Linked DNA regions of Homo sapiens: all the other regions are reported to be linked to region 4. Evidence: microRNA targets listed by miRTarBase, many of them from high-throughput screens and not tested one by one. Region 4 holds a microRNA gene; each other region holds the end of a gene's coding sequence.

What was found. The annotated mature microRNA hsa-miR-122-5p reads UGGAGUGUGACAAUGGUGUUUG and lies in region 4 at 1,460-1,481, opposite strand. An mRNA with a match to its seed (bases 2 to 7 or 8) in the 3' UTR can be bound and repressed. Matches are read on the target gene's strand: a 7mer-m8 pairs with bases 2 to 8, a 7mer-A1 pairs with bases 2 to 7 and ends in A, and an 8mer does both.
Region 1: the mRNA of TECPR1 is a reported target of hsa-miR-122-5p. Seed matches in the 3' UTR shown: 7mer-m8 at 2,534-2,540 and 7mer-A1 at 1,944-1,950.
Region 2: miRTarBase lists DNAJC18 as a target of hsa-miR-122-5p. Seed matches in the 3' UTR shown: 8mer at 2,665-2,672, 7mer-A1 at 2,960-2,966, 7mer-A1 at 2,965-2,971 and 7mer-A1 at 4,452-4,458.
Region 3: the mRNA of TIGD6 is a reported target of hsa-miR-122-5p. The part of its 3' UTR that is shown has no 7-base or 8-base seed match.
Region 5: the mRNA of CLIC4 is a reported target of hsa-miR-122-5p. Seed matches in the 3' UTR shown: 7mer-m8 at 3,221-3,227 and 8mer at 3,140-3,147.
Region 6: the mRNA of FLG2 is a reported target of hsa-miR-122-5p. Seed matches in the 3' UTR shown: 7mer-A1 at 2,651-2,657.
Region 7: the mRNA of SYNPO2L is a reported target of hsa-miR-122-5p. Seed matches in the 3' UTR shown: 7mer-A1 at 2,399-2,405.

What each region holds. Positions count from the first base shown.
Region 1 is chr7:98,214,661-98,219,039 of GRCh38, forward strand. TECPR1 (tectonin beta-propeller repeat containing 1) reads right to left here. Exons shown (of 26, transcript NM_015395.3): 24 at 3,276-3,382; 25 at 3,032-3,151; 26 at 1-2,843. The coding sequence ends at 2,730. It overlaps BHLHA15 (basic helix-loop-helix family member a15), which reads left to right. Exons shown (of 2, transcript NM_177455.4): 2 at 1-797. Among named protein-coding and RNA genes, the nearest start is that of BHLHA15, 5.4 kb to the left of the region's middle. RefSeq lists an enhancer at 3,626-3,685.
Region 2 is chr5:139,410,791-139,415,273 of GRCh38, reverse strand. DNAJC18 (DnaJ heat shock protein family (Hsp40) member C18) reads left to right here. Exons shown (of 8, transcript NM_152686.4): 8 at 1,002-4,483. The coding sequence ends at 1,126. Among named protein-coding and RNA genes, the nearest start is that of SPATA24, 8.9 kb to the right of the region's middle.
Region 3 is chr5:149,992,170-149,995,169 of GRCh38, reverse strand. It overlaps TIGD6 (tigger transposable element derived 6), which reads left to right. Exons shown (of 2, transcript NM_030953.4): 2 at 1-2,052. The coding sequence ends at 387. Among named protein-coding and RNA genes, the nearest start is that of TIGD6, 7.0 kb to the left of the region's middle.
Region 4 is chr18:58,448,086-58,452,568 of GRCh38, reverse strand. It overlaps MIR122 (microRNA 122), which reads right to left and starts at 1,495; the gene lies at 1,411-1,495. It overlaps MIR122HG (MIR122 host gene), which reads right to left. Exons shown (of 3, transcript NR_170245.1): 2 at 3,029-3,260; 3 at 1,288-1,750. MIR3591 (microRNA 3591) reads left to right here and starts at 1,417; the gene lies at 1,417-1,489.
Region 5 is chr1:24,839,845-24,844,327 of GRCh38, reverse strand. It overlaps CLIC4 (chloride intracellular channel 4), which reads right to left. Exons shown (of 6, transcript NM_013943.3): 5 at 4,287-4,468; 6 at 7-3,555. The coding sequence ends at 3,391. Among named protein-coding and RNA genes, the nearest start is that of MIR6731, 77 kb to the left of the region's middle.
Region 6 is chr1:152,347,368-152,351,850 of GRCh38, reverse strand. It overlaps FLG2 (filaggrin 2), which reads left to right. Exons shown (of 3, transcript NM_001014342.3): 3 at 1-3,116. The coding sequence ends at 1,241. All of the region lies in intron 7 of CCDST (cervical cancer associated DHX9 suppressive transcript), which reads right to left. Among named protein-coding and RNA genes, the nearest start is that of FLG2, 10 kb to the left of the region's middle.
Region 7 is chr10:73,643,794-73,648,276 of GRCh38, reverse strand. SYNPO2L (synaptopodin 2 like) reads left to right here. Exons shown (of 4, transcript NM_001114133.3): 4 at 1-3,391. The coding sequence ends at 1,559. Among named protein-coding and RNA genes, the nearest start is that of MYOZ1, 4.6 kb to the right of the region's middle. RefSeq lists enhancers at 1-566, 4,130-4,179.

The DNA of each region.
Region 1 (4,379 bases), not on the chromosome of region 4:
TGAATGGACCGACGAGCTGAGCCTGAAAGCCCAGAAGAGCCTCGGTCCAGAAGACGGAGACTCGGCCCGGTGTCCAGCGCAGCCCAGGGCTTCCTGGGGGGCAGCAGGAGTGCCTGGGGGTCACCGCCTTCAGGACAATGGCCTCAGTGGCTCTTTCTTTCTGCCCTGAACTGGCACCTGCACCTCCTCTGCTTCCTAGAGGGTGACCTGGGCCGAGCCGCCCAGTCCTTCTTCCCCTGAGGCCAGAGGGGACGCCCCGCGGCCACATCACACAGGATCCTCAGCAGCCATAGTCTCGCTTCAGGGTGTCCAGTGTTTCGAGGAGGAGAGGGGACAGGGGCCAGGTCCACTCCCTTGGCCCTCCTCTTGGACCCCAAGGCCAGGCCGGATCCTTTTATCCCGTGGGGAGCCCCTGCCTCGGCCATCGGGATGAGGTCCCTCAAGTCCCTGCACAAGCAGGTCAGAGACCCACCCACATGCCGTTCCTGGGCTACGCCACGCGCCATCCCCCGGGGCTGTGGACGCACCCAGCCCCCGACAGACAGGCGCCCTGAGAGCTCCGAAGGCGCGATCCCCATCCCCACCAGTGGAGAAGCCAGAACCGCGATTGTTGCATCTGGGAAAACCCAGCTGGAGCCGAACGGCCCGTGCCCCCACTGTAATTGTGCTGAAAATGTTTCTCAAATGACCCAAATTGGCTCTTATTTTTTCTAATGGCCCTTTCAAAGTATTCATGAAATTGATGCTGTGTCATAAAACAAAAATAAAAGATTTCACAGCAATGTCTGCTTCAGGCACACGGGGAACCACGCGTTTTAATCAACGTATCGATAAAAAACACCAGGGCACGGACACTCCAGGGGAAATGCTTATTGAGTAAAGTATCCGAGGAAGTGATGCAGGGCAGGTAAACAGCTGGTGCTCAGCAGCGAGAGGACGCGTCACTCTGCCGTTCTGCAGGGTGACGCCCTCCCCGTACCTCGCTGAGAGCCACCTGCAGACACAGCAGGCCACAGCAGAATGCACAGGTCACTGTTGTAGGGGAACAAATCGTAATGCCCAGAGAAAACCTGATAGTGAAATGTAAACAGACAGGACAGGGTGGTTCCAGGTGGCCACCACCGCCAGGCCCTTCCCGTGATTGATCTGAGAGCTTCACAGCCGGCGGCACTGGGACCCATTTCCAGAAACACTGGAACACCAGGTCTCTCAGATGCCCGCGGGAGGGGCCCCAGGGAGGCCTTTCTCAGCATCAGCTTTTGGGTGACAAACCCCATACAGCAAAACTGTACAAATACACACAACGGACCCCCAGCTGACAGTGAGACCAGGACCCTAGGAAGGTCAGGTGGTGGTGAAGTCATCCCCTCTCCAACCGAGCAGAGCCTGGGGTTGGGCTCTGATGACCTCCCGGGCAAAGTGTCCAGGTGGAGGAAGCAAACTCCCAAATGGGGCACAGAGGTAATAAAAAGCAGCTGAGAGACTGCGGGATGGGGTCGGGGCCACTTGGCCGACACCTTCTGCCTCGCCTGGCCGGGCCGGGCCAGCCTCTCGCCACAGGATGGAGGGTGACTGTGCACCCTGCTCCATGTACAGGACGGGCTGAGGGTCCCATGGCCACTGCCGACAGACACAGTAGTACTGCTCCCCACAGAAGCCCGCAGTCTGCACCCTCCTACAACATGATTTGACATCCAAGAAGCCCCTGTCACCAGCGCATCTGGGGAAGGGGCCGAATGGGGGTTGATGATGGTGACTGCACACACGGACACTGCCTCCAGCCATGGGGCAGCCTCTCATCCTCTCCCAGCCTCCCGTCTGGTACCCCGGCCCCCTCAGGGAAGAGGACATCCCATCCACTCCAGTGTTATTTCCAATCTGCTGTCTCCTTCCTTCACTTTTTTTTTTTTTTTTTTTTGAGATGGAGTCTCTGTCGCCCAGGCTGGAGTGCAGTGGCATGATCTCGGCTCACTGCAGCCTCCGCCTCCCGGGTTCAAACGATTCTCCTGCCTCAGCCTCCCGAGTAGCTGGGATTACAGGCACCCACCACCATGCCCAGCTAATTTTTTTTTTTTTGTATTTTTAGCAGAGATGGGGTTTCACCATGTTGGCCCGTCTGGTTTGAAACTCTTGACCTAGGTGATCTGCCCACCTCAGCCTCCCAAAGTGCTGGGATTACAGGCGTGAGCCACGGCGCCTGGCCTCCTTCCTTCACTTTTGAAATTAAAGCCTCTTTGCAAGTCCTGCTCTGAGAAATGGTCACTGCACATGGTAAAGAGGCCCTGAGCCCCATGGCCATCTCTCTTGGTGAGGGGTGGCGGGCCCGGGTGCTGTCTGAGATGCCAGCTCAGGAGGGCTCCATCCTGGCTCTGCTGCCCCAGGGCCGGCGTTCCCGGAGGGCTCCAGGTTCCCGGTTCTAGTCCTGGAAAGGCAGAAGGGAGAGGGGAAGGGAAGGGTGGGAGGGGCCTCTGGGAGGTGCAGCCCCACCCCATGCCCCACACCCCGGGACTCCTCGCAGACGGGGACACGTGTGGGAGTGTCCGCGGAGCTTCACATTTCAGGGCCGTCTCAGCCAGTGCCTCTGAAGTGGCCGCAGCCTTGGGGCCAGGTTCCCTCCTGAGTCCACCTGGGCCACATTGCTCCCACGGTGCACACTCCAGCACAAGAATGGCTCAGCCTTGATCCCCCAAACTGGGCACCGTCCCTGCATGTAGGTGTGTGGGGGGGCCTCAGCAGCAGACGGGGCCATGGGCCTCTGGTGGGGCACTCGGCTCCTGCTCCTGGGACGAGCTCCGGGGGGCCCTGGTGGCATTGGCCCGGACAGAGATATGGTCCCAGCCTCCCTGGAAGGAGAGAGCTGTGTCACCAGGGGACTCGGGGACTCGAGGATCCTGGAGGGGATCTGCCTGGGGGCCTCCCTGCAACCCAGACACCGGGTCCCAGGGGACAGTCCCACAGTGGTCGTCCCGTCTTCAGCACCCAGTGCAGGCACAAGGTGATAACACAGCCCAAGGCCGCGGGCCCCGCTCACCCCGATGCCGTAGTCCCAGCCGTGGCCCTTGGGCTCGTGAGGCTGCACGCCGGTGCGATGACACACTGTCCCCCGGCTCAGGCTGTGGCTGCCCTGCACTTTGTTGGCGATCACCCAGACCTGGAGCACAGACCCCATGAAGCCCTCAGCCCTACCTGCAGTGGGACGGCTGGGCATGGGATGGGGGAGACCAGAGAGGGAACCAGAGCACCCCAAGTGCCCGATACCCCCTGAGCACCCCCACCTGGTCCAGGGGCCCCACGGACACTCGGCACACGTTGTTGGACACGTGCTCCCAGCTGGAGCCCTGCGGGTAGCTGGGCGTGATCCCTTGGCGATACCACAGGTTTCCTGGGGAGAAAAGCAGTGAGGGTCAAAGGGGAAGACCTTCCCGGCCCCTCCTGCCCGTGCGGCCCGGCAGCCGGTGGCCAGGCCCCGCTCTAACCACTTCGGGGTTTGGGAAGCTGCTGGGGAGGCAGGAGGGTCCTGGCCCCTGAGTCAGGGCCACAGCCTCCTCCGCTTCTCCACACTCAGGAGCCTGGGCTGCAGCCAGCTCCGCCTTCTGCACACTCGGGGCGTCCCCCGAGCCTCATAATCGCCCTATTGTGCTGGGCACGGCCGGCCTCCTGATCCTCTTTCTGCTGAGGCAGAAACTATGGACAAGGGAAGTCCTAGCCAGAGCAATCAGGCAAGAGAAAGAAAGAAAGGGCATCCAAATCGAAAAAGAGGAAGTCACGGTGTGTCTGTTTGCCCATGATAGGATCAAATACCTAGAAAACCCTAAAGACGCCTCCAAAAGACTCCTAGATTTGACATATGAGTTCAGGAAAGTCTCAGGTTACAAAATCAATGCACACAAATTAGTAGCACTGCTACATGCCAGCAGCAACCAGGCTGAGAATCAAATTAACCCCTTTTACAACAGCTGCAAAAAATAACATAAAATACCTGGGAATGTACTTAACCAAGGAGGTGAAAGATCTCTATAAGGAGAACTACAAAACACTGCTGAAAGAAATCATAGATGACAGAAACAAATGGAAATACATCCCATATTCATGGATTGATGAGTATGGGATGAATCAGTGGAAGAATCAATATCATGAAAATGATCATACTGCCCAAAGCAATCTACAGATTCAATGCAATTCCTATTAAAATACTGTCATCATTTTTTACAGAATTAGAAAAAAAAATCCTAAAATTAATATGGAACCCACAAAGAGCCTCAATGCCCAAAGCAATTCTAACCAAAAAGAACAAATCTGGAGGCATCACATTACTGGACTTCAAATTATACTACAAGCCTACAGTAACAAAAACAGCATGGTGCTGCTATAAAAATAGA
Region 2 (4,483 bases), not on the chromosome of region 4:
AGGCAGTTTGCTGATTAATCAGACAGGTGTCTTTCGTTCCACCAAGAAAAACAAAATCTGTCAGCAAGATGATTAAGAATAGATAGGCATATTTCAAAACAATTAAAATAGCATTTTTACAAGTCTGGTCCTTTAAACATTGAGTAGCTGCCTGCTGTTGGAGGCTTTCAGGAAACACACACCACATCCAAGCATGCCATCCTGTTAATACGCAATACGTCTCTAAAGGTGCTCTTCAGGCATTCCTCCCTGAATATGTCTGAAACCTCACAAAAGAATAAAAAATAGAGGCAACCAAACCACTGTTGAGTCAGGAAACACAGCAGAGATTATATTCTGGTTAAAAATAGAATGACCTTCTCCACCATAAAGAGAAAATGAAATTAATTTAGTCAAGGAGACAAAGGTCACCGGATCCAGATGATTCAACTTTTAGAAAGGCCCAGCTGCCTTTGGCCTTTGAGTTGGGGACCCTACGTGTGGTGAGGGAATGAACAGCGCCAGTAGTGCCCTGGCCTTCTGTGGACGCACACCCGGCAGCAGTAGGCTCTGTGTGCCTTCGCACATGTGAGTTATGATGCAGCAATGCAGGAGAAGAATAAAGCAGCTGTCTGTTTCAGATGACAGGAATAGGCCACTGGACTCCATTCTCTCCCAGCTGCTGTTGGAATCCCGTTTGTAGGAGGCTATAGGGTGGTCTCACTGCACATGCGCAGGTTTCCTAAGTCTGGTGCCAAATGTTTTCTTGGTAAGAACTAAGTCCAGTGCTTTTATAAGAGAGCACAGATACTGTTGGACTGCAGGGTCACAGGTGCCCTTTAATCCTCCACACCTGGTCTAGTACCTAAGACGTGTTTTGTGAATAAATGACTAAATGTTTCTTATATTTAATTGTAAGAAAAAGCTTGAAATGAAGTAAAAGGAGCTTTGACTCCAGAAACATTGAAATGAAACAAAGGAGTTCAGCTCTTGATGAATTGGTTACCTCTTTTATCTTTCAGAGTCAGAGCTGACAAATTTGGCAGGATTATACAGAGATGAACGATTGAAACAGAAAGCAGAGTCGCTGAAACTTGAAAACTGTGAGAAACTTTCCAAACTCATTGGCCTACGCAGAGGTGGCTGAGAGGATAATGGTCCTACGCAGGGCTGGGGTTTTGCTACTTGTTCCTATTTATGTTCCTGATTCCATTTTATAATACAAAACTAGGTAATGATGAACACTTTACTATTTGCTAACTTCGTTGGTTGGGCAGAGTGGCAGGAGCATGGGCACGAGAGCCAGATGTGTCTTCACAGGATCCTTCCTGGGGAGTGGCTCCAGGGACCAGGAGTAGTTCATCTAAGTTAAATTAATGGCAAGGCATTGGATTCCGTCTCCCTGCTCCATGCCTACCCTGCCTATGTGAATGGAGTTCAGGGCATCCCAGAGCAGATCCATGCTTTCTTCCTTCTTCCCTTCTTCAGTGAAGTCTTAAGAACCAGGCATTCCTAGGCTTAGCCAAAGCTTAATATTAGTTATTTACACTGTCTACCAAGAATTATACCTCTCCCTTCATTAGAGTCATCATCTCCGCCAAGATTTAGCCTTTGGAACATGTTCCTGCCCAGCTTTCCATTTTCTAGGGGAATATGGAGAAATTTAAACTATTGTAGTCAATAGTTTTCTATTATTCCAATCTCTGCTCAGTTAGTAGCATTAGCAAACTGCCTAATTTGAGATTCCTTTATTTCCTTAACCCTCTCTCCTTTAGAGAGTCCAGAAATTAAAACTACTGAGCAGCATCTGGAGGCGGGGGCCAGGGCGAAGGTATAATGCAAGACCGAGCCTCATCTCCTCCACGAAGCCTCCCTACTCCATCATAGAACCCAGAGAATGTCCCTTCGGTCATTTCCCCTCAGTATCATCATTGGTGTCATCGCACTTAGGCTGAGTTCCTACATCCCACAGAGGCAGATGGTCAGACCCAGGAGGAGGCATTGCCAGCTCTCCAGGCTGTTTGCTCAAGCCTAGAGATAGAGGAGACAGATCCTCTCTCCTTGGATATGGGGGTCTAGCTTTGGCCCCAGCAGCCACTTTGTTTAACCCAGTATCCTATAGTTTGTGATTTGAGATGATTTTTCATTCATTCAACATTTATTGAGTGCCTACTATAAAAGCAGGGGCTCTCACACATATTTTCTTACTTAAACCTCCTCACAACTCTGAAGTAGATGTATTATCCCTGGTTCTATGAATGAGAACATTGGCCCAGAGAGGATGACCCAGGTCTTGTAGTGGCAGAGCAAGACGGTAGGCTGAGTGTCAAGTAGAAAGTGGGAGAGCATCCTCATGTCTCAGGTGATTCTAGCCAGACTGGCAAAGCAGAACCTTTCCCGAGGATGCCTCCGTCCTCCCCAACCCCATGACCCCTCATCTTTTCTGTGGCAATCTTGCATCTGTTCAGGACAACATCCCTGCTGCTCTTTAGGAAGCAGGACCCTGTCTAACATAAATTCTGTACACAAAATAAGAGGTCCCTCACAGGCAGGCAGCCCTCCACTGGTGACTAGGAAGAATTCAGTCACTGCCTGGGCTGTGTGGTTCTGGGCCTTCCTGTGGAGCTGAGCTGCCTGAATTATCATGACTCTGAACTTGGAAGGATCATTAAGTGACTGTAGCCTACACTCCATGCTTCCTTCATATTGGAAGAAAAGTTTCTGGTAGAGAGTCGGCCGGGTGCACTGGCTCAAGCCTGTAATCCCAGCACTTTGGGAGGCTGTGGCAGGTGGATCACCTGAGGTCAGGAGTTCAAGACCAGCCTGGCCAACACAGTGAAACCCCATCTCTACTAATAATACAAAAATTAGCCAGGTGTGGTGGCACATGCCTGTAGTCCCAGCTACTCGGGAGGCTGAGGCATGAGAATCGCTGCAACTTGCAAGGTGGAGGTTACAGTGAGCTGAAATCACGCCACTGCACTCCACTCCATCTCAAAAAAAAAAAGAGTCTACATTAAACAGATTCCAAAGTAAAGTTTCTTCATCCCAATGCATGGCCATGATTTACACAGACGTGCCTAGCATGGCTCATCAACATCTGAACGGTTGTTCCCTACCATGCCTCTGCAGGCATTCCACAGAGTCAGGAGATGGGTTCACAGGTAAAGATTGGGGGCTTTAGTGGCTTGTAGGGGACAACTGCTCAGTTGCAGGGAGAGGGAGCATTTCTAGAAATAGCCAGATTTTGCTGCCCAACTAGATCTGTCCTCCTGGTTTTAGGGGGCCCTTCTTGATCCCCTCTGAGTGACTGAGGGAGGTTACATTGTAAAATATGTCCATGAGCCAAACAGGCTTATGGAAAGTTCTTCTACACACAAAAAAATCAAAGCTCTCCTCTCCCCATCCCCAACCACTGCTAGAAAATTGGCCATAATGAAACTGACTTGACAGGTTAAAAGACCCTGTCCTAGATGCCCAGGAATCAGGTAGTCACACATTTTATGGACTTCATGGCAGCGATAAGTAATCTGTGATGATACTAAATAGAAGCAATAATAACTAACTCCATTAAATGTCACGCTGATTGTCTGTTTTTATAGCACCGATGGTACTGTTTTATTTATTGCCAATAGACCACAACATTCACATCTGTTTTTCCTCAAGGGAACCGTATTTGCTTTTGGTTGAAGGATTTATCTATTTGATACTATCCAGAATATTGTGAAGCTATAATTTCCTGGGTTATATTTTAGATGGGTTGTCTGCATGGTGGTAAAATAAGCTTTTTCCTCTCGCCTACGTCCTTTGGAAGATCTCCTGATCATACATAACTAGGTAGGGCTTATTCTTGCTGCCGGAGCTTGGCACCCAGCTCTAGACTGTTTCTTTGAGCATTACTGCAGATTGGAGACGTGTGTGAGAGGAGCAGCGCTCAGAAATAGGGCTTGAGGCTCAAGCAGAAACTGAAGCTCTCATTCAAATGAAGATGCTCTCTCTACCGCACGATCGGCAGTGAGAAAAGGAGGATGAAAATCCTTCTCATCACAAAGAGCTTGAAGGAACCCACGTCCCCAGATTAGCAACCCTAGAGTTCATCTGCTCAGGCCGGGAAATGTGTAAGCTTCCTTGATCAGCTCCAGGCCTCACAGCACGGGAGCAGTGACCAGTAAGGAAACGTCACTGCTGTGCTTTCTGTTGGAAATTGTTCGAAAATACAGTGAACTGGCCAGGCCCAGTAGCTCATGCCTGTAATCCCAGCACTTTGAAAGGCTGAGGCAGGCAGATCATTTGAGGTCAGGAGTTCCAGACCAGCCTGGCCAACATGGTGAAACCCTGTCTGTACTAAAAATACAAAAATTAGGCGGGCATGGTAGCACGTGTCTGTAATCCCAGCTCCTCAGGAGGCTGAGGCAGAAGAATCTCTTGAGCCTGGGAGGCAGAGGTTGCAGTAAGCTGAGATCACATCATTGCACTCCAGCCTGGGTGACAGAGCAAGACTCTG
Region 3 (3,000 bases), not on the chromosome of region 4:
CCAGACATTGCCATTGAAAAGTTGTGGCACACAGTGGCTATTGCCACCTGTGTCCCAAATGAAGTAAATTTCCAGGACTTTGTTACTGCAGATGATGATCTCATTATCTCTCAGGACACAGACATCATCCAGGACATGGTGGCTGGCGAAAATACCAGTGAAGCAGGAAGTGAAGATGAAGGGGAGGTATCTTTACCAGAGCAACCAAAAGTCACCATCACAGAAGCCATATCAAGTGTACAGAAACTTAGACAGTTCCTTTCCACTTGTGTAGACATTCCTGATGCCATTTTTGGACAATTAAATGGCATAGATGAATATTTAATGAAAAGAGTGACACAAACCCTTATTGATTCCAAAATTACAGATTTCCTCCAAACAAAATAATGCAGGAATTTATTTCAGAAAATGTAGTTTACAAGAATAAAGATTTCTTTAGATAGGTTGTTGAGCCAATTTAAGTAAAGCAATGTTATTGTGACAACATTCCAGTACTCTGAAATAGCCAGGAAACTTCTTTGAATGGAATTTGACTAATATGTGTGTTTTCTTTTCTTTTGTTTTTGGCTGTCTCTGGTCCTTGATTCAAGATGTATTTTGATTCATCCAAGGGTTTCCAAACTTGTCTGCAAATTAGGATCACTTGAGAATCCTTTAAAAATTCCAAAGCTCAGGCCATATCCCAGGCCTATTAAATCACAATCTTTGGTGACGGGTCACAGGCATTGGTAGTTTTGAAGCTCTCCAGGTGATTCCAATGTGCAGACAAATTTGAAAACTGAACCAACCACAGGAACATCAAGTACACTGTGGGCCTGGGTCCAGCTTCTTTCCAGTAAGTGTATCTCAGGGGCTTCCAAATTTAGCTTACATCAGAATCACTTGGAAGGCTTGTTAAAACCCAAGGCTGCTAGGCCCACCCCCAGAGTTTGATACAGTAGACCTCAGGTGGGACCCAAAAATTTGCATTTCTAACACATTCTCAGCTGATGCAGTCCAGGCTCCATGCTTTGAAAACCACTGGTCTAGCTTTAGATAGGATATTGAGCCAATTTAAATAAAGCAATATACTGGTCTAGCTGAGTTCTAGAACTTCTCTCTTTAGCTGGCCATCTGAATACTCCCCCATCACTAATTGTTAAAAAAAGAATCAACTGTTCTTACTCTAGAGCTCTTTTTTCCTTTCTGCTGATTTGCTGGAAGCACTACAAGACTTCTGTTTGTTCGTTCGTTTGTTTGTTTGTTTGTTTTTAAAGATGGGGTCTTGTTATATTGCCTAGGCTGGAATGCAGTGGTTATTCACAGGCATGATTATAACACACTACTCTCTCTAACTCCTGGCCTCAAGCCATCCTCCCAAATAGATGGGACTACTGATGCACACTGCCATGCTGGCCTTACGAAATGTTTTAATAGGCATTTCACTAATAGGGATCTGGAGTACAAGGAAATACAGTGCATTTAAGACATAGGCTGGGCATGGTGGCTCATGCCTGTAATCCCAGCACATTGGGAAGATCACTTGAGGCAAGGAGTTTGAGACCAGACTGGCCAACACAGCGAGACCCCCATCTCTAAAAAAAAAAAAATTAATAAGACATGGATACAACCAGGGAGGGAGGTTATAATAATAGAGCATCCTGTTAATCAGAATCATGGGGGAGAACATACAGCCCAGCGTGCCTCTCACTTTCCAGAAAGGGTGAGAGGATCATTAGAGAGTTCATTAGAGAGTATTTATTCCTAATAAGTCAGATAAATGTCAGTTTCATTTTTAGAAGTTTCACACAATACCTGCTAATGGTGTGATGTCATTTTTCCCCCTGCTTCAGGTTAATTTTTTGGATATTTCAGAAACCCATAGCAATTCAGTGATTTTTCTTTTTGTAGTAGCTCAGTCAAAACAGGTAACAGCAGATTAATCATAGAAAATGTTGCTTCCACATTAACAAAACAATCACTGAAAAACAGCAGATGTTTAAATAGATTATTTTATAGCTTATTTTGGATATTTTTTCTTTTAATAAACTAATATGATCATTTGAATTAAAAGTACTGTACATATTTTAAATTCTTAACATGTGGGAGAGGCAAACTCTTCTGGCTAAGTCCTGTGGTTGTATTTCTTTGTCAGCTCCTTAATTGCTGTCATCATCCTCTCGTGTCAGGATTACTGCCACAGTATCTAATTCCTTCCCTCACCTTTCTCCTGCAGTCCATTCTGCACATATTGTTTGATCTATTGGCATCACACCATTTCCCCTGCCCAAGTGTCTGTAGTGGCTTTCAAATGCCTACAAAAAAAACTATTCAGCTGAGTTTTAGTATCCTCTATAGTTGACTACAACCTGCATTTCCAACTTGTTAGCTCGATACAATTCTGTGTACATAATGCTCCCTGAAGAGGCCATTGTTTTCTTTTACTGCATACCGACTTCTGCCTGTGTGCCTTGCCCAAATGCCTCATCCTGTTTTCTACTAAGCTAGGCCCTACACATTCAGGAACTAACTGGAATCCTCTTTCTTCCAGGCTTTCTTGGAGACTCCAGCAACTACTCCACCTGTTTTCCCCTCATCTTCTCCAAACTTCTTGTCTGTACCACTCAAATACTTAGATGTTTTCTAGATGTTCTCTGGCTCTTTAGACTGTAAGTTCCATGACAGCAGGGATCAGTCAACCTTTATAATCTTAATGGTGCCTAGGACTGTGCTGGACACATCGTAGGCACTTCAAAAAACATTTGTGTATAAATTGATAGACACGTACAATGTGTTGAAGCCACCTTATTTTTAAAGCTGTATTAAGCATTGATTCTACTAGAAATGGCTTGGAGATAAGGTAGGGTTTTATTCCATTTAAAAGGGTTTGCAAAATTTTTCCATGAATATAGTTGCCTCAAATATAATTCCAATCCAGGTTATAATCTCTGTTCTTTGATAATGAATTATATATAATGTAATTTGATAAGTATATAGAATATATACTATTTATAGTTGAAC
Region 4 (4,483 bases):
CAGAGGCATCTCATGACCTTGAAGCCTTTGTAGTGTATCATAAATGTGTGGGCTGCATTCAGGTGAGGCTTTCCAGCAAGGGACTCAGAATTATTTCGCAAAGTTTTGCTCATTTGGCTCCCGTTTGGAACAATTACAATGGTCCCAAAATATAATGCGAGCCAGTGAATGCCCATCTCTGGAAATAACATCAGACACATTTAATTTAAAAGTGTCTTCAATGCCTAGGACAGTGTCAGGCACACGGTAGTCTCTACACATATTTATTTCATAAGTGAATGGTTGAATGGTTGAATTTGTTTCTGATGGTTGATCTAACCCTGTCTATTTGATTAAACATGTCCTACTTCATTTAACCAAGCCTGGGGAGGGAAGCTTTAGTCTGGCACAAACGAAACCTACTCCTGACTTTAGACACCTCTCAGAGACAGAATGGGTTCCAAACCAGAGCACCTGGCTGGGCCAACTGTCCTAGAAACTGCATGGGTCCCAGATTTGCTATGGCAGCTCACACATGCTTCATAAACAATTTTCTGATGGTAATTCACTGATGCAAGAGGAAGAAAGGCCTAGTGTACGAATTCAGTAATCAGCCTAGTAATTGATTGAAATCAGTAGAAATCAAACATATTCTAGAATTTCTGAAACGTCAGTGAAACCATGTGTAAGTTTATTAGAAAGTTGGATTTTTTAACGACGAAAAGAGAAGGACCCACACACCTTAATTTTGTACCTATAAGCTTGCGGTCTGTCTGCATAACATAGATTTAGCCCAGTCTTAGCCTTCTGCGTCTAACACTTTCCTAACTATTCATTTTAAGTCTATAAGCATGGGTTAAATGATTACCTCGTGCCTGGCCTTGTGTTGGGGGCTCTGAGGAACTCTGCAATCTTTTTATTTTCATTTTTTGAGACAGGATCTTGCTCTGTCACACAGGCTGGAGTGCAGTGGTACCATCACAGCTCACTACAGCCTCAACCTCGTGGGCTCAATTGATCCTCCCACCTCAGCCTCTCAAGTAGCTGAGATTACAGGCACATGCCACCATGCCTGGCTAATTTTTGTAGTTTTTGTAGAGACACGGTTTCACCATGCTGCCCAGGCTGGACTTGAACTCCTGAGCTCAAGTGATCCGCCTGCCTTGGCCTCCCAAAGTGCTGGGATTTCAGGCGTGAGCCACCGTGCCTGGTCTGCAATCTTTTTATTGACTTGGGAAAACAAGAAAATTAATCACCAGCTAAGGTATGTAACAACAGCATGTGAGAGGCAGGGTTCAGCTAACCATATTGGTTATGAGTGCAAAAGAGCCAGACTTTATTCAGTAAGTACACAAGATTGAGAAGACTGATATCAGATGAACCTTCTTGCTCAAAGCAAACGATGCCAAGACATTTATCGAGGGAAGGATTGCCTAGCAGTAGCTATTTAGTGTGATAATGGCGTTTGATAGTTTAGACACAAACACCATTGTCACACTCCACAGCTCTGCTAAGGAAACTCTGTAGCCACGAAGGTGTTAACTTCACCTCCACATTCCACCATTGTCACTGATAATAGGGGAACCTTGTCAGCTCCACATATTGTGACCTAAGCAGAGAAAAGAAGCATCACGGGTACAAGCATCTTGAGCAATGGGAAGAGCTGAACACTCTCAATGAAAGGCTTCTGTGTTCTGGAACAGTAGAGTAGTAGAGGGGTCCACTGCCTGTGTTCCACTGCCACCCAGCAAACCCCTTCTGCAAAAACTTCCTGTGAAAATGGACAGGAACTCTGTTTGCAACAATTTTCTAAAATGGCTGAGAGAGAAAGAATCTCTAGAGGGAATAGATTTCTGGAAATAAATACTTATTGGAAGACTACATTATAAATGAGAATAATCTGGCCGAATGAATGGATACTCTCCAACTCTCACCTCTTCACCTACTTCCCAATCCATCATCAGTAAATGTGATCAATTCTGCAGTCTAGGAAAATTAAAATTATTTTATATGGGGATACAGCAGTTAGATGTGTTGTGATCTACTCTCCGTGGCATCTATTGGATATAAAGGCATCTGGTCTTGCTCAAATGTTCAATCTTCTTGACCACAGTCATTTTCCACCATGGCGGTGGGTGGGAGATGAGGGGAGAGAAGAAAGAGAGGAAGATGGAGAGAGAGGAAACGAGTCCATTTTTAGTTCATGATACTCATTTTCTAGCAAAAAGGGAGCTCCAAATAAATCCCTACAGGATTTACTTGGCTTTCCTGTTAAAGATGGTTTATAATTGTTATGTGAACTCCTGCCCACCATGGAGAATGAGAGGAAATAAAGCATTTTACCTACTCCTTCTTTTCCTGCAAATGCTGAAAAGGGAAAGGGTTGGGAGCCAGTTATTTTTTCCCCAGGATAACTGAGTTGTTAACATCTGACCAGAGTCTTGCTTTAGCCCTAAAACCGGCCCATCTTTAACAGCTGTAAATGAACCCTTCCGTATTTTTCAGAAAAAAAAAAAAAAAATTGCGCCTTATTCTCATGTAGATCCTGAAATCACCCTCTTCAAGCTGGACTTGCAGTGATTATCCCCCTGCGAAAGCTGAAAGTCGTTCTGCTCCCATGGGTTGGAGTGTTGAAGTTGCCTCTTTTTTTCTTTCCCTTTTTCACTTTGTGGATTCGTTATCTTCCCCTAAGTGACTGATTTCCTTTGGTTCCTGTCTGTGGCCCTGGCTTTCTTTCATGAAATGTGGTCATTTGCAAGGCAGCAGGCCGTGCCAGTGCTACACATACTCTCTTAGGTGGGACTCGCCTCCTGGGCAGTTTTCCATGACTCAGAGAGAATGACTACGAACCCTAGAACTGCTCTAGGTGGCCCCAGTCACTGCCACAAACCCCTAGCACTCTGGGTGTGGCCAGCAGTGGACACAGGCATGTGGTGGCCCATCTTGTCCTTCCCTTTCCCTACAGCTCCTCCTAACACAGTAGCCAGGCTTGTCCTGCTTAGTCTTTGCTGAGGGACCTAGAACAGAAATCGCCACCTCCTGGTCATACCAGGGCTATCGCTGACCATCCACAAGAGGCTCTAGAAGTCTCTTAGCTCTGCTGGGAAGAAACAGTGAGAGGTGAACAATTCACTGATTAAAAGGGTCCCCGGAGGATGCGCTTGGAGCGCTCTATCCTGGGCAAGGGCTTGGACCCATTTCACTTCTCAGGGCTCCATAGCAGTATCTGAGCATCCTCCACTTCTCCATGGGGGCTCTGTTGGCTTTTGGCTTTGAATAATCTGCAAAATACAGAAAAGGGAAGGAACAGATGGAAGATGAAAAGAGATGAGGAAGTTAATGCATTACAGGTAAATCTTACCAACTCCCCACCCCCCAAATCAACCTTTACAGGTAAATCTTACCAACTCCCCCCACCCCAAATCAACCTCAATTTCTATGGCCCAGAAATCTATCTCCAGGAAAATGTCAAAAATTTGTAGAAAGATTTACCTATAAGGTTGCTCATAGTGGCATTGTTTATAAGGGTAAACATTGGAAACAACCTAAATGTCCAGCTATAGGAGAAGAGTAATATATTTATGATAGACCATAATTATTTAAATTGATTCTGTAGAAAAGTCTGGTAGACTTGGAAATTCAAGATATGTTATTGAATTAAAAAACAGTTTATAAAACAATATACACAGTATGAGTCCCTTTCTGTGAAAAAATGCATACATGCCTGAGGCCAAAACATCAAATGTTAACCATGGTTATCTTTCAGTAGAGAAATTATGGTTTGTTTTCATTTTCTCCTTTTGTGTGCATTTGTTAATTTATGATTCATATGGCACTTTTTTATTGAGAAAAATGAGGATTTAAAAACTTTTAGGCAATTTTCTTTCTGGACTCTCAATACAAATTCCTTCTTGCAAAATACTCTTCTGAAATTGGGAAGGTTGGAACCCATCCTGCTCATATACAACTTGTCACAAGCATGAAAAGTTAGTGCTGTGCTGAGTGGCAGGCCTCAGGCTAATTTTTTAGCAAATTATTAGTGAAATACTTTATTATGCAGTACAATAATTTTATGGTATTATTGCATCAATCACTAAACACATATTGAGTGCCAATCATTTTCTGTCTTGTGAGCAATTTTTAAACATTGCTAAAATGGCCAACATCTTTTATTACTACTTTGTTTCTGCAGAGGTGGTTAAACTGTCAATTTACAAAGCAGTTTAAACAAACAAGCAGAAGGTTTTCTTTTTTTAAAAAAAAAAAGTCATCCAATAATATATCGCTAGTAAAATAAATTAAAAGTGGTTAGTGTCAGGATCCACTTTTGAATATTTTAAACATTCACAAAATAATTTCTCATTCTGCAGATTTTTAATGTTCTAGTATTTTCAAACTTAACAACTGAACTTAAATAGTACGAGCTAATAACAAATAGAAACATTATACACTGGTTGGGAAGTATTAACACGTTATTTCCTTTGAAAAAATAATGCTTAAGGCA
Region 5 (4,483 bases), not on the chromosome of region 4:
AAACACTTTTACCCCAAGTTGTTGTTTATTTTCATGAGGGGGGAAAAAAGAATCCTTTATGATAGTGAAAATATACTTTATTTTTTAATACAATAGCTGCCAGCAATATACTGGTGCTGATGTTCCAAAGATAAAAGAAAATACATGCATTCTATAATAAGCTTTCATTTGCCTGTTCAAGAAATTATAAAGAAAATACTCCAATTCTGTTCAACATTACGGCTTGAGGAGTTGAAATTTTTCCATGATAAAAATATACTTTGTGTGGCCCAAACCTTGACTATTTATAAAGGATGGAGTTTTTAAAAGCCCACATGTATCAATAATGGATGCTCCCCTCTCTTTGAATTAAATGCTTAAATTCAAATTAATGCAAGAAATTGGTGAATCATTAAATGATGAAATTTGTATCAAAATGTTCATGAAAAAATACATTTCTATTTCCTCTACATTTTTACTTTGTAGTTATTTTCTAAATGGGTTTAAGGGCACAGAAATAAATGCTATCTACATGCAACTCTGGAGAGATTCAAAACACAACAGAAGTTAACATGCCTAAATCCTAGAGTTGATCCATTTAGTGTAAGAATAAATGTCAGAAATCTCTTAATTGTATACAGATTGCTCAAGGATTTAAAGATAAATTGTGAAAGCCAAAATTACCAAGAAATAAAATCTTATTTGAATTTTATCACAAAAGTTTACAGTCCTAGTAAAAGACAACAGAACTGTATAGAATATCTGCATCTACATCAAAAAAGGGAAGTTTTATCAACTAGAATAGAGAGCTTTCCAACTGCTGAATACAAAAATTTCTCAGAATCTCTTGGAAAACAGATCCATTCAGACTCCAATCTCCTCACTGAAGTAAAACACAAAAGGTGTTTAAATGAAGGGGAATGGATGTTAGTTGTAAAAATAAAATCAGATTATTTCCATTATGGCAATTCATATACTGCATGAACTGTCTACCATGAAAACTTTATGTCCCAAATTTCTCAAGATGTTAAACTATGCTCTTTCCACAAACATACAATGGGGTTAAAGCATGTTGCTGGGTCGTCCTTTTTACTAGCTAGCTTTTGTCCATTTACCAATTTCCATTTCATTTGACTAACTTCCCTGATAAAGTGGTATCTGTGTTTCTACAGAGAAAAATAATTCTGTCTTCATCAAAATCACAATAGACATGCCTTCCTAGAACATTTAGAGGGATGGCCAGGTGTAATCACTGGTTTAATAAAAACAGGAGAATATCCAAAATGAAAATATTTGAGTTTCAAAATGAATTTTCATCACTGTATTCTGAAGAATGTAGTTCTTTCCTCTTGTTAGCCCTCCACCTCGCACCACTCAGTCCACCATTCACTGGAAAGAACAAACCTCACTGCTCTTGAATCTTTTTTATACTTTAAGCTATGAGGCAAGGTTCAGAATCACCAGAATGAATCCCAAGTTGCCACTATTTAAAAAGTAGGTGAAGAATGATAATGCCTGCCTGTGTACTGGTGCAGATGGGACATTTTCACCCACTAAAACCACTGCAAAATAATTTCTCAATAGATAACTGAATAGTGCATCTTCCTTGAACCAGATAAATCATACAATATTTAATTACCAAAAAAAAACCAAGCGGGTACTCAAACTTTTGATAAGCAATAAAGAGTTCTAAGAAAGGTAAGGCAAAGAATCTTCCTGAGCCAAATGGATACAACATGGAGATTTTCTTATCTTTCATACTAAGCTAATTAATGATAGGCTCAAAAAATGCAGTATACTTATAAAAAGCCGCTTTCATAAAGCCAGTGCTTACTAAATGTTAGCATATCAAAGTGGGAGAAACACTGCCATTTTAAAGCAATAAACTTAAAATTTCAAGAAACAGCCTATGAGAAATAGCACTTCCTATACAAATTAGGTATAAAAAAATTACCAAAAATGTATTATAGTCACAATCACAGTCTTTGGAGTAGTACGTAGAAAGTCTGGTTTTGCTTTTGTCTTTTAAAAAAGAGTAAATACATAGCAAAGTTTTATTTTCAGCAAGTTCATCCTCCTGTTAGAACACAAATAATTCCTGGTTTAGGGCTTCAATTAAAAAAAACCCCGAAAAACAAAACAAAAACATGCAGAGTGCTATTCCTCAACATGGCTGTTGGAAAATTTAACTCCAGGAAGTGCAATGAGTGAGATCAGGCAAAACTACAGTAAATACACACTCACCATAACTATAACTTAGTCCCAAAGGAATGAACAATCCTCTATACAAGGTAAATGGGGTGAAATGAGAAAATTGGTGACCTGTGTTTTATCTTTCTTTTATATAGGATGGATAACGCATTCTTTAGGTCATCTACATTAAATGTACTTTAGAAACAAAAATTTACTTGATATTTTGACAAACCCACCCTTCATTCCTTAGGTTAATTTCTGTGTTAATTTTTACATTACTAATCATTGTACTGCTATAGCTAAGTCAACTAAAAATCAGTTATGTAGTGTTGCTCAACAGATGTACAAATAGCAAGCTCTATGATTACGTAAAAACAAGCTTTTTAAAATAAAGAATGCAATAAAGTTCCAAATGAATGGCACAGGGCAAAACACATATAACAAACGTATTTAGACAGAGTATCAGGTGCCCATCAGTTTCTCTTCTAAAGATAAAATGCTTGAGGAAGGTCTTGAGAAAACCCTCACTCCCTCTAAACTTTTAGCTTCTACATGGTGTCAGATGTTACAATTGGTATGAAGGATAAATGCTTTTAGGCAAAAGTAAAAATCTATCTACAAAGCAATATAGCAAAATCTGTAGTGACTTTTGTAGAAAGCTCTCTTCTCTGGTGGTAATATTCGTTAGTACATATCCAGGATAGACTAAATTGAAACAATATTTCTGATACAGTAGCAATCCTTTCATATACTCTTACTAAATATTACAAAATTCCAAAAAATACATAAATATTTCTTGTACCATGCATTATGCACCAGTTTGGGGCTGCCTGATAAAGTCGTGGCTACTATTTTTAACAATTAAACATTGCACCTCAAAAGTTCTGCCATCTATACACAGTGAATGGACACAATGGTGAGGGCTCCTGAGAGATGGCAAGCTACCTCTAAAGTGAAAAGTTTGTGGTGGAGTGTCTCCAAATTAAAGAGAGGGGAACCCGGGTAGGGGAGGTAGCCAGGGTAAAGGATTTTAAAATAATACTGCTTAGGAGTGTATATTTTAAGATAACTACTATACCTTGTCTATCCTTGATCCTAATCTTCAATAACTGCATGTTCGTGCAAAATACAATTTCTGCTCTACAGGAAGGAGTAGCCTGTTAGGAAAAGCGTATTCTTAGGGGAAGACATGAAGACATCTCTTTTACAAACGCGATTTTACTTGGTGAGTCTTTTGGCTACATCACTATATGCTATTTCAACCTCCTTATCACTGGGACAGGTATTGGTGAACTCGTCCCTACTGTATGCATTAGTTAGGTATCTCCAGATGCCAGTCATTTCTTTTGGAATATCAAAGTTGCGATATTTTTTGGCCACCACCTGAAATACAAAGAGATCAAAAGTTAACAGACTTATTTCCACGTCTTGTAAACTAGACATATCTCTGATTTTGGAGCAAATAATTAATGCTCTAAATCTTTGAGAACTGCTTCTATATGAAAAAAAGTCCATCACCATCATTCTAACCAGAGTTTTAAATAATGACCAAGACTGCAAGCTACACCAGGGATTTAGAAGTGTGACAGTGACTGCAAATAACTGCCTTGGACATCCAGAAAGACAGCCAAGTATAATCACTGGAAAATACTTCACAACACACATATGCTATTTTAGATCTGTTTTTGTTATCTTAGGTCTTTATTTACAACTAGCGCTTATTATTATTCTATTTAACAATGTGCCCAGCCCAGTGTCTCATATAATAAATGCTCAATACTTTTTGCCTTCAATAGAGAAAGCAAGGTGTGATCACAGAACAGAATTTGATAACATAAGTCAGTGTGGCAAACTCCAATTCAAAGTCACGCATTATATCTTTGAATTTGTATGCAGTCACAGAAAAAAAAATATTCATCTTTCTTATATTCCTCAATTTTAAGACATAATTTTCCATTTAACTAACTCTAGGGTGCTTCAACTATTGCCTAAACAGCATTGAGTTAAACAACTAGTCATATAAAATCAGAAATGTTTTGAGCACAAAGGAAATGCCACTTTAGTAAATACAATACAAGGTAATGGCAATGCGACATCAACCCCTACAGACCTACCTTGACAATATGCAGTTTGGGCAGCAGGTTGCAATCAGCTAATGTCATTTCATTGCCATCCAGAAATTTACGTGTAGAAAACTTTATGTCCTCCATACTATTTTCATCAATTTCATCAGGGAGAGGAGAATTCAGATATTCATCCAGTTTCTGCAGGGTTTTCAGGAGACCCCTCTCCAGTGCTTGGGGGGGAAAAA
Region 6 (4,483 bases), not on the chromosome of region 4:
CTGGATCTCACTATCCAGAGTCAGGATCCTCAGTTCATGAGAGACACGGAACTACTCATGGACAAACAGCAGATACCACTAGACATGGCCACTCTGGTCATGGACAGTCCACACAGAGAGGGTCCAGGACAACTGGAAGAAGGGCATCTGGCCACAGTGAGTACAGTGACAGTGAAGGGCACTCAGGGGTCTCACACACACATTCAGGACACGCTCATGGCCAAGCCGGATCTCAACATGGAGAGTCAGGATCCTCAGTTCATGAGAGACACGGAACTACTCATGGACAGACAGGAGATACCACTAGACATGCTCACTCTGGTCATGGACAGTCCACACAGAGAGGGTCAAGGACAGCTGGAAGAAGGGGATCTGGCCACAGTGAGTCCAGTGACAGTGAAGTGCACTCAGGGGTCTCACACACACATTCAGGACACACTTATGGCCAAGCCAGATCTCAACATGGAGAGTCAGGATCTGCCATTCACGGGAGACAGGGAACTATACATGGACAGACAGGAGATACCACTAGACATGGCCAGTCTGGTCATGGACAGTCCACACAGACAGGTTCCAGGACAACTGGAAGACAAAGATCTAGTCACAGTGAGTCCAGTGATAGTGAAGTGCACTCAGAGGCCTCACCCACACATTCAGGACACACTCACAGCCAAGCCGGATCTCGACATGGACAGTCAGGATCCTCAGGTCATGGGAGACAGGGAACTACTCATGGACAGACAGGAGATACCACTAGACATGCCCACTATGGTTATGGACAATCCACACAGAGAGGGTCCAGGACAACTGGAAGAAGGGGATCTGGCCACAGTGAGTCCAGTGACAGTGAAGTGCACTCATGGGGCTCACACACACATTCAGGACACATTCAGGGCCAAGCTGGATCTCAACAAAGACAGCCAGGATCCACAGTTCATGGGAGACTGGAAACTACTCATGGACAGACAGGAGATACCACTAGACATGGCCATTCTGGTTATGGACAATCCACACAGACAGGTTCCAGATCTAGTAGAGCAAGTCATTTTCAGTCACATAGTAGTGAAAGGCAAAGGCATGGATCAAGTCAGGTTTGGAAACATGGCAGCTATGGACCTGCAGAATATGACTATGGGCACACTGGGTATGGGCCTTCTGGTGGCAGCAGAAAAAGCATCAGTAATTCTCACCTTTCATGGTCAACAGACAGCACTGCAAACAAGCAACTGTCTAGACATTGACAGTTATTTTCTAGTTCTGACCTTATAGTATCCAAAGCAACTAAAAGAACAGGAAGACACAGTTTAAATCATGAACAGTCAATGGTAAGTTATGAACATTCAGTTGATTCTCAGTATCAGTCTCGACCTATTATTATAAGAAGTCAGGAATCTAGTCATGGACATTCTATAGTAACTCATAAACAGTCAAACAACACCTATGTTCAACCTGGATATAACACAGCCAGAAGGGAGGGATGTACACATAGCCAGTCAAATGACCACCTTGGATTTGGCCATGGACAATCCATATCAGTTCATGGCCATTCAAAATCTAGTTCAATCAGAAAACAGGAATCCCATACTGATAACAAAAAGCATTCAGAAGATTGGGAGAAAGACACTCATGAGCAATTAGGATCTAGGCATGGGAAGTTAGAGTTCAATACAATAGGTATACATGGATCTAGCCAGCAACATTTCGGAGATACAACTTTTCATGGGCAGGTAAGATCCAGCACAGGTTTTGCCAGATAGGTATTAAGTCATGGGCCATCAAGAGATGCCTAGGGTCAGTCTGGATTCAGTACCAATGAAAGACAAGTATACAGCCATGGCCAATCAAATGATAGTTATGAGTAGTCAAATGACAGCAAAAGTCAAAGATACATTTTCAGTCACTTTCTTGACAGCCAAGACCCTGCAGGAATTGAAGAGTATAGGTATAGATATTCATCAAGCAGTGCAACCATATGCAGTGGGGGAGACAAAGGCAAGAGTCAGAGTCAAGTCTGTCAGGAGGTATCAGAATATACGGTGAGGATGTGGGCAAAAAACAAAGAGGCTCTGAGGCCAGCGGTTACCATACAAAGGAAAGAACAGGCTCTGGTTCCTTCTGCTTAGATAGCAACACCCCACTCTATGAATATGTCCAAGAACAAAGGAGTTATTACTTTGAATAAGAAGCCAACATAAACTAGCCCAAGATAAGAACTAACCCAGAGAAGAAATGAGACACATACATGAAATTAAGGTATTTAACATGATCTCCTCTTTTGGTAGTAAGGGTATATGTCTGTTCTTTCATTTTAACTATAGTTCTGTACTATATTACTTTTGTTTGGTGCCAGGTGTTTTTGTAAGGCTCCACATTCATTGAACTCCTTGGTTAGAAAATAGTGAATGAGGCCGGGCGCGGTGGCTCACGCCTGTAATCCCAGCACTTTGGGAGGCCAAGATGGGTGGATCACGAAGTCAGGAGTTCGAGACCAGCCTGGCCAACATAGTGAAATCCCGTCTCTACTAAAAATACAAAAATTAGCTGGGTGCAGTAGCGGGCACCTGTAATCCTAGCTACTCAGGAGGCTGAGGCAGGAGAATTGGTTGAACCCGGGAGGCAGAGGTTGCAGTGAGCCGAGATCGCACCACTGCACTCCAGCCTGGGTGACTGAGCAAGACTCCACCTTGAAAAAAAGAAAGAAAGAAAATAGTGAATGGAAGAAAAAGATAAACACCATTTGGGGCTATATTCAGAACTATATAATAAAGAGAGATTTGTGTGGTTGGGAATAAAATTAGGTTTTAAAAAAATTTCCGAATTTCAAAATTTGGATTTTCCAGATTTTGTTTTAATTAATTATTGACAAACCTATCCAAGGAGCTAAATGACGTGGTTTAGGAGCCAAAACGTCTCTAGAAACATTATAACACATCCCATCCTGAACAAAGAATGTTGTCATAGTTTCCCACATGAATATTCAGAATATTTGCATCTTTTTGTGTCACTACTGGAATTCTGTACAATTATATTTAAATTTATTGTCATGGCCTTCTGGATATAGGATCCAGAAAATTGTACTTCATAAAAATTGGCAATAAACATTTCATCAAGTTATAGTTTCTCTTCTCTTTCATCTCCACAAACACATAGTTTCCTGCCATGGGATCAGATGCAGTTTTCTTCCACCTCCACACAGCTAGATGGCAGTGAAGCACTCAGGTACTAATAATAAGGACTCCAAAGAAGACAAAACTCAACCATATCTGATCTTTTCCTCAATCTAATCGCTGTCCAATGCTTCTGTAAAGCATTTACAGAAAGGCTTTATACTGATGAGTTGACCTCAGATGTTCTGGTTAATCATGATCATCACAGCAATTATTATCAAACATAATCCCAAGAAGCTACTTTCTAAGACAACCCAAGCTCTGGAAATAAGAATTATACACCATGGATTTTCTCTGTCAAAGATATTAATGGAAGAATCACTATCAATAGAAGCTAATTGGGTCCAGAGGTTTCCAGTAGAAGAAAAACAGTTAAAAATATATTATTCCTGCCTATAAGGAGAAAATACATGAATTTATTATGAATAGTGAGAGAAGTAATGATGAGTAGAAGAATTATGTACAAAATGCACTATCCTCAGTAGAAAGTTTACTACTATAAAACCCAAAGAAAATGTGCAGACTGTCAGAACTAGTAAGAACTTTAAAGATTACTTCCTTAATTTGGAAGTTAAAATAAAAAAGCCAAGCACACCGCATTTAATTAAAAGAGTGATAATTCTCACCATTAAATTTGGTGCTATCCAAATTTATCCTCTTTTCACTCAAAAATCAAGCTACTTTTCCTCCACCTTCACTTTTGGAATTCAAACTAAACTGAAATTCATCAGTGAGTGTTCAAAATCACAAGTCCCTATTAGAAGCAGAAGTTACATGAAAACAACAACAACAACAAACAGGCTCATTCTTCTGATTAGACTCAGAATATATCTATCTAATCTAGTTTTTAAATTGTAATATTAAGAAGGACTTGTACTTTATGAACTTTAAATCGTACTATGTAATCAACATAACACTAGTCTGTTAGTTTGCTAGTGAAAAAGCTACTGTTATACTATTAATGATACTCAGCAAAATTACTGTGTATATAGGAGTTAACGCTAGTAACCAATTCATACCAATCTATCTATCACCATTTATTCACTGAATATAAATACTAATTATCAAAGAACAATTAGAAATTTAAATTTGATATTTAATCTCTTTCTATTATAGATAAAGTAAGTCTATACCTATAATAAAAAGAGAAATCCATAGATTTTTATCCTACCTCTGCACAGCTAGATGGCAGTAAAGTAAATCTATGGATTTACTTTATTTACAATAGAAGAGATTAACTTGCTAATTGGAAGTGCTGCTATGACCAAGGTATAGGTTTCTGATTCTCAAGCCAAAGCTCTCTCTCGTGTCAGGGC
Region 7 (4,483 bases), not on the chromosome of region 4:
CAGCTCCAAGCATCTTTAACCGGTCAGCCAGGCCCTTTACCCCGGGCCTACAAGGGCAGCGGCCAACTACCACCTCGGTTATTTTCCGGCCTTTAGCCCCCAAAAGGGCGAACGACAGCCTGGGGGGCCTCAGCCCCGCCCCACCCCCCTTCTTGTCTTCGCAGGGGCCCACCCCTCTGCCCAGCTTCACTTCAGGGGTTCCCAGCCACGCGCCAGTCTCTGGTTCCCCCAGCACCCCACGCTCCTCGGGCCCTGTGACAGCCACCAGCTCCCTGTACATCCCAGCCCCTAGTCGGCCTGTCACCCCAGGTGGAGCTCCAGAGCCCCCCGCTCCTCCTAGCGCAGCTGCCATGACCTCCACCGCTTCTATCTTCCTATCTGCGCCTTTGCGACCCTCTGCGCGCCCAGAGGCGCCTGCCCCAGGCCCAGGGGCTCCTGAGCCCCCCAGCGCTCGCGAGCAGCGCATCTCTGTGCCAGCTGCCCGCACGGGTATCCTGCAGGAGGCCCGGCGCCGGGGGACCCGGAAGCAGATGTTCCGGCCGGGAAAGGAGGAGACGAAGAACTCGCCCAACCCCGAGCTGCTATCGCTGGTACAGAACCTGGATGAAAAGCCTCGGGCCGGGGGTGCAGAATCTGGTCCTGAAGAAGATGCTCTGAGCCTCGGGGCTGAAGCCTGCAACTTCATGCAGCCAGTAGGGGCCAGGAGTTACAAGACCCTGCCTCACGTGACACCTAAGACCCCCCCTCCAATGGCTCCCAAGACCCCGCCCCCTATGACTCCTAAGACTCCACCCCCAGTGGCTCCTAAGCCCCCATCTCGAGGGCTCCTTGATGGGCTCGTGAATGGGGCAGCCTCTTCGGCTGGAATCCCTGAGCCACCAAGGCTGCAGGGCAGGGGTGGGGAGCTGTTTGCTAAGCGGCAGAGCCGTGCGGACAGGTATGTGGTGGAAGGTACACCTGGTCCTGGTCTTGGCCCTCGGCCTAGAAGTCCTTCTCCTACCCCGTCTCTGCCCCCTTCCTGGAAATATTCACCCAACATCCGTGCCCCGCCTCCTATTGCTTACAACCCACTGCTCTCTCCCTTTTTCCCCCAGGCGGCCCGAACTCTCCCTAAGGCCCAATCCCAGGGGCCTCGGGCAACACCCAAGCAGGGCATCAAGGCTCTAGATTTTATGCGGCATCAGCCCTATCAACTTAAAACTGCCATGTTCTGTTTTGATGAGGTTCCCCCGACTCCTGGCCCTATCGCCTCAGGGTCCCCCAAAACTGCCCGAGTCCAGGAGATTCGCCGGTTTTCCACTCCGGCACCCCAGCCCACTGCAGAACCCCTGGCTCCCACTGTGCTTGCCCCCCGAGCAGCCACTACACTGGATGAGCCCATCTGGAGAACAGAACTGGCCTCAGCCCCTGTTCCTAGCCCAGCCCCTCCTCCAGAGGCTCCCAGGGGCCTTGGGGCTTCTCCCAGCTCCTGCGGTTTCCAGGTAGCCAGGCCCCGATTTTCAGCCACCAGAACAGGATTGCAAGCTCATGTGTGGAGGCCTGGGGCAGGGCACCAGTGAACAGGCACAGGTCCCAGGACCAAGGAGAGGTGGAACATCCAGTTCCTAAAGTTGCTTCTCCTACCCTATCCCATCCCCTGTCACGCATCTGGAAGCTAAATTGCCTCCTGCCAGAGATGGTTTCCAAGTTGATGTCCCCTTCCCCCACCTTCCTCCTCACTCTCTACCTCCCTGCCGCTTTCCAACCAAGTATGTCTGCTTTGGTATCTTTGCCTCTCTTTGTCTCTGCATTTCCTTTCCTGGATCTCTGTCTTTATTTCCAGGCTTCTCCACCCATATTCCTCCACAGATCTCTCTTCCTTGACATTTGTGCTTTTCTCCCTGGGCCTCATTTTAATGTTCAGTGAGAAGTAAACAGAGCAGAAGTGACCACTGGGACTTCAGGCAAGAAGCTCACCACCAGGCACACAGCAAAGGGACTGAACTGACCCCTGTTTGCACTAAGCCACCCCCACCCCCCACTCTGCTTTCCCAAGCTTGACTGGCATATACCTAGGCCTGTGTGTGTGTGTGTGTGTGTGTGTGTGTGTGTGTGTGTGCTCTTCCGTCTAAGGCATGAATAAGAGGGGAGGTCAAAATAAAGACCCAATCTGAGGCCGGGCACGGTGGCTCACGCCGGTAATCCCAGCACTTTGGGAGGCCGAGGCGGGCGGATCACGAGGTCAGGAGATCGAGACCATCCTGGCTAACACGGTGAAACCCCATTTCCACTAAAAATACAAAAAATTAGCTGGGCGTGGTGGCGAGCGCCTGTAGTCCCAGCTACTCGGGAGGCTGAGGCAGGAGAATGGCATGAACCTGGAAGGCGGAGCTTGCAGTGAGCTGAGATTGCGCCACTGCACTCCAGCCTGGGCGACGGAGCGAGACTCTGTCTCAAAACAAACAAACAAACAAAAGACCCAATCTGAGTCTTATCGTTGTACTGATAGAAGGGTCAGATATCCCCACATGGAGTTGAGTGGGAGAAAGAGATTCACTAGAGAATAACTCCTTAGAGACCAATGTCTGTAGCAGGTGTACAGCATCTTGTGAAAGTTATGGAGCATGAAAAGACTGAAGGGCCAGGACAGTTTGCATGGGCTGAGTTATACCAGCTAGACCAGGAATAGAACAAAGAATTCTATACCTCAGGATTTCAAAAAGTTAGCAACTTGAGAGGCCAGTGCTGAGCAACCCAGTACCCAGGAAATGAAAAAAAGAAAGAAAATTCCCTCCGAGAATGAACAAATCATTGGCTTCATTGCCTCATGAGCTTGAGAGAAAGGAGAAGAGAGCCAGAGTGTGGCAAGTGAGGCCAAAATCAGAAGCATGGCAGAAATGAGTGTAAGTGATTGAGCCACAGACAGAAGTGTGGCGAGGGACAATGCCATATTGGGAGAAGGTAAAGTTGAGTAACAAGAAACCAACCGTGTGTGAGAGGGGGATTGGAAAAAAATTTGAGGGAGAAGAATGTTAGAATGGAAGGGAATGATGGTGGAAGGGAGGTGTGAGGGTGTGTGCTGAGTGTTGAAAGAACGGTTGGTGTCTGTGTGATTTTCCTTGAGTCTGTTCTTCAGTGTGTCTTCTGCAGCTTGCCATGACTGCCTGGGAAAGAGTAGGGAAATACCCAGAGCCAAAACCTCCTTTCAGTCCCACCCCATCCCTCAAAACCCCAGCTATTGCTTCTTTTCAGCTTCAGGTCCTGATCTCCAATCTTAGTATGGACTCCCTTCTCACCAAGACCACCACCAGCTACGTTTGCTGTGTAATCTGGAAAGTGATAATTTCCTTTGCTTGTTGGGTGTGAGTCACAATACTTTGGTTTGTGCACAAGAATAAATTTATGCCCCATACCTTCTGTTGCTGTTATCTTCTAGTTTTATTCCTAAATCCTGATCTCTCCTTAATCTTCTTTAACCCATTCCCCTGATCTGATTTCTGATCTGTCTCTTTTCCTGCCCTCCCATTTTTCATCCTTTTGCCCTTTGTTCCCAGGTCTTTTGCTCTTTTATACAAATTCTGTCCTGCTTTGATTTAGCCACCTCCATCACTCTTCTTGGTTCCCTCTCCCCACAGTCTTCATCCAAGTTCTCCCCTTTCCCTCCCTTGCCTCATACTTTCTAGGTAAGGCTTCAGTTCACAGAACTCAGAGAAGTTGGAAAGGCCCTCTGAGCCCTTTGCTATCAACATTTCCTCGCTCCTTAGAGGAAGCAACCATATTAAACAGTCTCTGGGAAGTAAATGAAGAGAAAGCAATGGCTGGAGGGCTGGAGGGGAAGGTGGGATGGGAGAGGGAAGAATAAAGCTGAATTGAGACTACTAAAGAAGGGAGGGCGTTGGAGGTAGGTGAGAATTAGACTTCAGAGAAGGAAAGTGCCATTGCTCTGATTCTGCCAGCAGAGGGCACATTTGTGCCAATAATCAGACCCAGGCCGCAGACTCTTCCAAGTGCACTGTCTTAGAATTCCAAAAAAAGATCTCAGAGACCATAGGTTAAATAGCCTGTCTTCACCCACTCAGTCGTTTTGGGTACTCAGTTGAAGGAGATCAAACTTTCAGTTTGTTTTTGTTTTTGAGGGTGAGGGTGGTAGTGATGATGAAGTCACCTTTAGCTATTTATAGTTCTTCTTTTTTTTTGAGATGGAGTCTCCCTCTGTGGCTCAGGCTGGAGTGCAGTGGTGCGATCTCAGCTCACTGCAACCTCTGCCTCCTGGGTTCAAGTGATTCTCCTGCCTCAGCCTCCCAAGTAGCTGGGATTACAGGCACGCACCGCCATGCCTGACTAGTTTTTGTATTTTTAGTAGAGACTGGGTTTCACCATGTTGGCCAGGCTGGTCTTGAACTCCTGACCTCAAGTGATCCACCCACCTCGGCCTCCCAAAGTGCTGTGATTACAGGCATGAGCCACCACGCCCGGCCTATTTTATCTTCTAATTGCTTCCTTG